Linked DNA regions of Homo sapiens: region 2 is linked to region 1. A link means that fine-mapping ties the variant in region 1 to the expression of a gene that starts in the linked region. Tissue or cell type: whole blood. Region 1 holds a variant in brackets; the other region holds the start of a gene. All regions are shown on one strand. Distances are from middle to middle.

What was found. PIP is the estimated chance that this variant, and not a neighbour inherited with it, causes the effect.
Region 2: NCOA4 starts here. The variant in region 1 is fine-mapped to the expression of NCOA4 in whole blood (TOPMed, PIP above 0.99).

Annotation. Positions count from the first base shown.
Region 1 is chr10:46,096,676-46,100,838 of GRCh38, forward strand. No RefSeq gene overlaps it. Among named protein-coding and RNA genes, the nearest start is that of MSMB, 52 kb to the left of the region's middle. RefSeq lists enhancers at 384-678, 404-698. The variant T/G (reference allele first, on the strand shown) is at 2,586.
Region 2 is chr10:46,028,120-46,032,282 of GRCh38, forward strand. NCOA4 (nuclear receptor coactivator 4) reads right to left here and starts at 2,504. Exons shown (of 10, transcript NM_001145263.2): 1 at 2,407-2,504. LOC105378287 (a long non-coding RNA gene) reads left to right here and starts at 2,656. Exons shown (of 3, transcript XR_945923.4): 1 at 2,656-2,748. RefSeq lists a silencer at 2,030-2,119 and an enhancer at 2,480-2,549.

The sequences.
Region 1 (4,163 bases):
CGATGGATGAGCAACTGTGAGTCAGCAACTGCAATGGGGCCGACATTCCTAACCCTAACCCTAAGCCAGAACCAGGAATGGGCAACTGAGAGTCAGCGACTGACAATGGGGTTGACATTCCTAACTCTAACTCTAACTCTAATCTTCATGCTAACCCTAACCCTGAACCGGGGATGGGCAACTGAGAGTCTGCCACTGACAATGGGGTTGACATTCCTAACTCTAACTCTAACTCTAACTCTAACCCAAACCGTAACCCTAACAAGGGTTCTCTTGTGTTGGACACTCGATCCTTTAACAGGTAGGGCTGCATTTGGGAAAAGTCATCCTGCTAAGCCCCCAACCCTACACCCAGCCCCCATGGCCCTAGACTCCTGAACCTGATTCAGTTTCCTCCTCTCTCTTTACCCTGCTACAGGAAATACCAAATCTGCTTAATTAGACTGCCTGGCCTCTTTGACTTCCTGTGCCCTTGAAACAAAAAGACCAAAGGCTGGAGAGGCAGCCCTGATGGCTGTGCATGCACGGTCTGAACACTGATCTGCAGACTGGCTGGGGGATATAGCCTGTCAGCTGCTGTTAAAACAGACAAAATGGGCTGGGGCAGCCAGAACTGGCTCTGGTGGCAGGACTGGGACAGGCTGGGGACTTAGGGTCAGGCTAATCCAATGTGACAGGCTGAGCCTGCACAGCAAGGCTGGGCAGAGCATGGACCCTGAAGGCTGGCTTCCCACTGCGGGCAGAGAGTCCCTGCCATGGCCGGAGCTCTGAGAGCCCTGCCTGCCCAGCTCAGGAGGGGAGGAGGCCAGGTCCATCCATACCCAGAAGAGGCCATGCCCAAACCCGGCTCCCCGTCTGGGTCACCCGCCACAGTCCTCCCCCATAGACTTGCTTTTTACCACCTCACACCCACTCCAGTCTCTCTGCCAAACCCACAGCGCAGGACACACAGATCCAAGCCTCCCCCTAGCTCAAGATGCGGCAGCCCACCCTGTATCCCCTTGAAGCTGCAAGTGGGGTCCAGGCCCCCATCCAGTACTCAGTGTCCTCACCTCTCTCCTGCGCTTCAACTTCTGTGGGCCCAGTTCTGGGCATGTGCATTGGAAGCGCTCTCACCTCCCGCCAAACAGGAACTCTGCAATGTACCCTGCTGGGCCTGGGCACCTCTCTAGGCCACCTCAAGCCACCTGAGCTTGCTCCTCCTACCTCCCTCCAGTTTCCCAGCCTGGCCTGGAGCTCAGAACCCCATCCAGGGACTCCCGTCTGGGCCTGCCAGCATCCCTGCGCTAAAGTCGCACGACTCTCACCACCGGCTCTGACACTGTCTCCCTCCTGCACTGGTCAGGGCAGGGGGAACAGGCACAGAGCAGCAGCCAGCAAAGGTGTGTGTTCAAAGGACACACACCCCCGCCCTGCCAGCCCCTGCACCCCGGGAATCCTCACAGCCACCTCCCAGGGAAGGAGGCAGGGCAGAGAGAGGGCAGGGGAGTGTGAAGTAGGGAGGCTGAGAACTTCTGGAGCACAGGGGCCTGCAGGTAACCTTGCAGCCATGGGTAGGAGGATGCAGGGGAGCCGGGGCTAAGGTCAGGGTGGGTACTGTGAGTTGCCCTGACCGGCCTGCCCTGTGTGCTGTCAGGCTCCCAGCCAAGGTCTCTGGGAGCCCCTCAGCTCCCTGGAGGTCCCTCTGGCTCAGTTCATCAGGCCTCCCTTTAGGGCTCAAAGCAGCACTCACTTGTCTGAGGTGAGCCGGCAAGACGGTGTTGCTGTCCGTGGAGTAGGTGACGAAGGACATCCGCTTATTTGGGCTGAGACAGAATCAAGTACTGGTGAAAAGCCGGAGGCACCAGCTCAGAAGCCAGGGTGAGTGATGCCAATTCCCCACCTCCCACCCCAACTCTGTTATGAATTCCCTATTGTGATTGACAGGAAGGCTGACATGGTGACTTTGCGAACTGCAGCTCTTCCCAATGTCCTGCATGTTGACAACACCAGGGGGAGGCACAGGACCTGTGGAGGGGCTACAAGAGGAAGCCTCCATTTCCCTTATAACAGCCCTCACAGGGTCCCTTAAAACCACTAGACCCTGCCATTTGTTCACTGGAAGAGTTAGCCCAGGTGACTTAGGTGAGGACATTGCTGTGGATGAGGAGGTCAAGGACTGGGAGGCCAGAGTGTTGGCAATGGGAGGTTATTTGTGTGACACTGAAGTCCCCCAGGAGATGGCAGATCTGAAAGGAGATGGAAACTGTGGTGTTGCCAGAGTCTTTGTGAATGAGGGACATTCCGGTTCTCTACTGCTGTGTAACAGACCACCTACATTTAGAGACACAGAACAGGCCCATTTTATTACGCTCACAGGTTCTGAGGATGAGGCACTCAGGGCGAGTTAGGAGGGCTCCTCATGTCTGGGGCCCCATGACTTGAAGGATTGGGCACTGGAATTATCTGGAGGCTGCTCCACTCACAAGTGTGGCTCCTGGGCAGGAGGGCCCAAAAGCTGGGCTCAGCTGGGACTGTGAATGGAGACCCTGCATGTAGCCTCCTCGTATGACCTGGGCTTCCTCCCAGCATGGCAGCTTCAGGGT[T/G]CTTGGGTTTTTACAGGTGGCCCAGAGCTCCAAGAGTGAGTATTTCCAGTGAGCAAGGTAGAAATTGTAGAGCCTTTTATGATATCACCTTGGAAGTCACATAGTGTCACTTCCACTGTACTCTATTGGTCCAAGCAGTCACAGCTGCCAAAAGTCAATGGGAGAGAACACAGGCCCCCTCTCTAGGGCAGGAGTGTGGATGAGTTCATATCCCAGTGTCAAAACTGCTGTATGACCAACGCTTTGAATGGCAGAGATGTGTGGAAAAATGTGGGCACTGATGATGGGATTCAAGTTGGACTCAGGAAAGTTAGACTGTGATAGTTAGAAATACCTTAATTTTATTTTCTTCATTTTTGTATGCAGAAGTGATATATGATTAAAAATCTTTCTTCAATAAGTCTAAAATAGATCTTTCAACATATTTAACAGAAAAATTACAAGTGATAGCCAGGCAGGGTGGCTCATGCCTGTAATCTCAGCACTTTGGGAGGCTGAGGCTGGCAGATGACTTAAGGTCAGGATTTTGAGAGCTGCCTGGCCAGCATGGTGAAGCCCCATCTCTACTAAAAATACAAAAATTAGCCAGGCGTGGTGGTGCACATCTGTAATCCCAACTACTTGGGAGGCTGAGGCAGAAAAATCACTTGAATCTGGGAGGCAGAGGTTGCAGATTGCAAGATTGCGCCACTGCATTCCAGCCTAAGACTCTTTCTCAAAAAAAAAAAAAAAATTACAAGTAGTAAAAAGCACTGGGTTAGTGGACTTTGGGGGTTTTTTGTCTTGCTTTGGAGTGGTGTTTAAAATAATGGATCATTTTAAACAAGTGGTATTTTAGAATGGGTAAAGTTGGTGTAATTCCTCCGAAAGCATATTAGGTTTTCTTTCTTCACATCCTTCATGACTCTTGGTAGTGCCATATTTTATATTTTTTGATTTCTAATTATGTTTTGATGTCTAATCAATAGACAAAAGTATTGACTTAATTTGCAGTTTCCTAATTACTAAAGGGTTGTTCATCTGTTCACAGGATTTTGGGTCATTCATGTTCCCTCCTTTGTGAAGTGCCTATTCATGCCTCTGTGTCCATTCTTGATTTGGGTGTTTGTCTTTTGCACATTGATTCATTCACATTCTTTAAATTCTGAATACTAATCCTTTATCAATTGTTGCAAATATCTTCTTGCATGGTGTGGCTTGTTCTTTCACTCTATTTGTTGTCTCTTAGTAAAGCAAAAGGTGTTCATTTTAATCCAGTTGTTTGTCATTTTCTTTTTCTTTTTTCTTTTGTTGTTGGTATTTTTTGTTTGTTTTATTGTTTTGTTTTGTTTTGTTTTGTTTTGAGACAGAATCTCACTCTGTTGCCTAGAGTCCCACTCTGTTGCCCAGGCTGGAGTGCAGTGGTGTGATCTCGGCTCACTGCAACCTCTGCCTCCTGGGTTCAAGCAATTCTCTGCCTCAGCCTCCCAAGTAGCTGGAATTACAGGTGCCCGCCACCACGCCCAGCTAATTTTTGTATTTTTAGTAGAGATGGGGTTTCACCATCTTGGCCAGGCTGGTCTTGAACTCCTGACCTCG
Region 2 (4,163 bases), 69 kb before region 1:
CAGGGCCCTTGCGCTTTCCTCCAGGTATCCTCGAGCCCAGGCCTTCACTTCCTTCAGGTGTCTGCTCAGAGGTCATCTTCTCATTGAGGCCATTCCTCACCATCTTTTATTTTTAAAAGTCTTGCCTCCAATCCCCCTTAATATGCTTTATTACTCTCCATAGTACTAACCACAGTCTGGCACGTAGCAACCATTTATTTTCTGATCTCCCTTCAGAAAACATACTAGAAGGTAAGTTCCACATGGCGGGGACTTTGTCTTTTTGTTCACTGTTGTATAGTAGGTGTTCAACAATTAATTACTGAGTAAATGAATTCAGTAAGTATTTACATCTAGTCTACTATGTGCCGAGCCTTTTTTTAAAAAACTCACTATCTCAATTAGCCCTCATTAAAGTGGCTATTATCATCACCATTAATTAAAAAAAAAAAAAAAGCAGACTTGACAAGGTTAAATATATTACCTACAGTCACAAACTCCCAAGTAGAAGAGCCAAGATTTAATCCCAGATCTGAGTCCAAAGTCCCTAACCACACCTGGTATGTTGAAGGAATCATTAAGTATTAAGGTATTATGTATTCATCCAACAACTATTTATTGAGTACCTAAACTGACACTACTGTGATAGTCCCTGAGAACACAATGGTGAGCTTGCCACCTAGAGGAGAACTCGTGTCATAGATTCACCAACCAAGCAGAAAATACTAATTCTTTGAAATAAGAGACTGAGTTCAAAGTCCATCAGCAGCAGCAATGACTGGCTCTGAATGCTAACACTATGTGAGGGAAAGTATTATAAAACACTAACTTAGGGACTCTCAACCGGGGGAGGGATATGTGTCAGGATATCCTATGGAGTTTTATGAAACCCCTACACCGGATCCTGAGATTCTGGCACAGCTATACTGATTTAATAAAAAAAAAAAAAAGGGGGGGGTGAGGGGTACTATGTAGTTCTAAAATATCTTCTCTCCCTTTGAGAAGGACATCTTCCTCCCCTTCCATAGCTCAACATGTTTTTCCATTTCCGAAATGCCTGTTTGCACAAAGGTAATAATGTAATTGTAGAGATTTATTTAGATAAAAACTACCACAAAACTTTCAAAGAGTAGGATTTTCCTTAGAGACCCAAGGACAAAGGCTCCCTGGAAGGCAGGAAAGGAGAAAATGAAAGGAACGTTATTGTGCTGGACTTTACATACATAATCTCATTTACTTATCTGAACAAATCTGCAAGCTAGCAAATCTTCAAATGAGAAAACCAAGTAAATTGCCTAAGCCACTGCATCCTTAGGGTAAGTCTTTCTCAAACGGTCTCAAGTACTTTAAAGTTTGGAAATGTCACACTAGGATCTCGGTATAAAAATGGGCCAACTATGACTTCCTGTGCCATCCTCATTCCAATAAGTAACTCAAGAGTCTCTATAAACTTAGTTCCAAATTACCAAGTGCGTGGTGGAAAGCTAAGTCCATCCAAAAGGCAATTACTGTGGTGAACCCGACCCTGATTAGAAAGTGACACAAAAAGGCACAGTTAAAAGTAAAAAAGCTCTGCCTTTGGGGTCAGATAAATTCAGCACTCTGACTTCTGTCATTCTACTTCTGCCATTCTTGATGGCATCATTCCATGTTAAATCCCGTGCCACGTAAGATTATGATTATTGTTTTCCCCACAACAAGAATTTAGTTCCATGAGAATTAGGTGTCCATTTTTTTCATTGCTATCCTCAACATCCTGAACATACAGGCACCAAATAAATGATTGCTGGTGGAATGAACCAATGAATGAGCAAGCCTTACTCTTCTCAGCTGTAAAACAGAGATAATCAAGCTACTTTTCGGGATTATTGGGAGAATTAAATGTGACAGTATGTGTTTGGCACACAGAGGGCCAAAAAAACCCAATATCTTCTTTGCATTTCCACCTGACAAGCTAGAAATGGATTATGTTCTGTGCCCGTCCGGCAAAACAGACCTCGCCTCGCCCCACATCCAAGCAAGAGGCGAGAGAAACAGGAAACTTGGAGCTGTCACACCTAAAGAGAGGGGAAGGCCGGCGGGGAGCAGGAGGTGTCCGAGCCGGGTGTGAGGAGGGTCGGGGAGGAAAGGACAGGCCCACGGCCGGGCACGAGGAGGGTCGGGGAGGAAAAGACAAGCCCGGGCCCGGCGTGTGGCGGGAAGGCGAGAACGTAGGCCCGGGCCCGGCGTGTGGCCGGAAGGGGAGAAGACAGGCCCGGGCCCGGCGGGCAGGCAGGAAGAGGTGCCCGGGCCTGGCGTGTGGAGGGGAGGGAAGGGAAGGAGAAGGCAGACCGGTCCCGGTGTCGGTCGGGTCGGGAAGGGGCGGACAAGCCCGGGCCCAGCGGGCCAGCGGTCATCGAGCCTCCACCCGGCCCACAGCGTTCTTACCAGGTCCGAGTGCCTCTCCAGGCGATCCGAGGAGACCTTGGGTGGACTGAGACACGGCCCCACACTAACCTACGGCCCAAAGGCAGAGTTCTCGCGACAACACAATCTTCCTCCCACACCTCTCGCCATACGTCTGACAGTCTCGCGAGATCTCCGCTCGGGTCAGCCAGAAGCCCTTGACTGCCCTCTAGGAGGCGCAGAGCGCAGGCGCACACTCCCTCCCCGCCCTTGCAGTGTCCTTTAGTCCTTCGTGAATAAATCGAAATTAAATGAAGCAAATGCTTTTTTGAAGGCAAATTTGGTGCCAAGGACCATCCTAAGTGATTCAGATGGCCTCACAAGGTAGATATTATTTAGTTTGAACATTCAGATGCAAAAATGAATATCGTAAGACACAAAAGGCCATATGTTGTATGATTCCACCTTTGCCACATTTGTTTTTCTAAGGATTGAGTTAATAGGCCGGGAGCAGTGGCTCACGCCTGTAATCCCAGCACGTTGGGGGCCGAGGCGGGCGAATCACGAGGTCGGAAGATGGAGAGCATCCTGGCTAACACGGTGAAACTCCTTCTCTACTAAAAATACAAAAAAATTAGCCAGGCGTGGTGGCTCGCGCGTATAGCCTCAGCTATTCGGGAGGCTGAGGCAGAACTGCCTGAACCTGGGAGGCAGAGGTTGCAGTGAGCCGAGATCGCTCCACTGCACTCCAGCCCGGGCGACAGAGCAAGACTCCGTCTCAAAAAAAAAAAAAAAAAAAATTGAGTAAATAAATAAATGGCAGAACCCAGATTCTTTTTTTCTTTTCTTTTTTCTTTGAGACAGGGTCTGACTCTGTCGCTCAGGCGCAGTGGCGCAATCTCGGCTTGCTGTAACCTCTGCCTCCTGTGTTCAAGCGATTCTCCTGCCTCAACCTGCTGAGTAGCTGGGATTACAGACATGCGCCATGATGCCCGGTTTTTAAATTTTTTTGTAGAGACAGGGTCTTGCTGTGTTACCCAGACTGGTCTCAAAGTCCTGGGCACAAGCGATCCTCCCACCTGATCTAGGATTACAAGCATGAGCCACCACGTCCAGCCTACAGCCCAGATTATAACCCACATTATTTACTTGTGACTAGATGTTAAATAGCACTTCTTTCTGTCTCAGTTTTGACAGAGGTCCTCCATACTCAGTTGCCAACTGCTTCCCCACATTCCGCAGCAAAGGAGGTGATCATAGCAGGGTTTTATGGATCTCATCCAAGAGTGACTCTGCTACAAGGGGCAAGGCAACCTCATTAGAAAACAATAGGAGACATAGATTACGATGCAGAAGCTAAGATAACAGTCATAGGCTGTGAGTGGAAGGGGAGCTGTGGAGAGAGAAGCCCACAAAAGTCCCATGAGGAAGTCAGCCTAGAACATGACCTCAGGCAGAAGGAGCCCTTAACTCTCCTGTCCCCCATTCCCTCTCAATTCAGATGCAGCCCCTGGAATGAGACTTTGTGTAACTCAAAATGTAACTCAGACCACTTTTTTAAATTATCTGAAGGTGAACAAGAAAGCTAAGGGACCTGTCTAGATTGCTCAACTGGCCCACATAGCATGTTTAAACAGATAGGGGACAGGGGAAAATAAAGCTCTTTATCAGTTGCCCACTGATTGTTCAACAGATGACTGTTTGCTCATTTCTGATCTGTCACGTACACACAGCTGAGTCCAAGCCCCAGGAGAACAGGGTTCTCTCCTGAAATCTCTCTGGTTCACTGCTGTATCCCC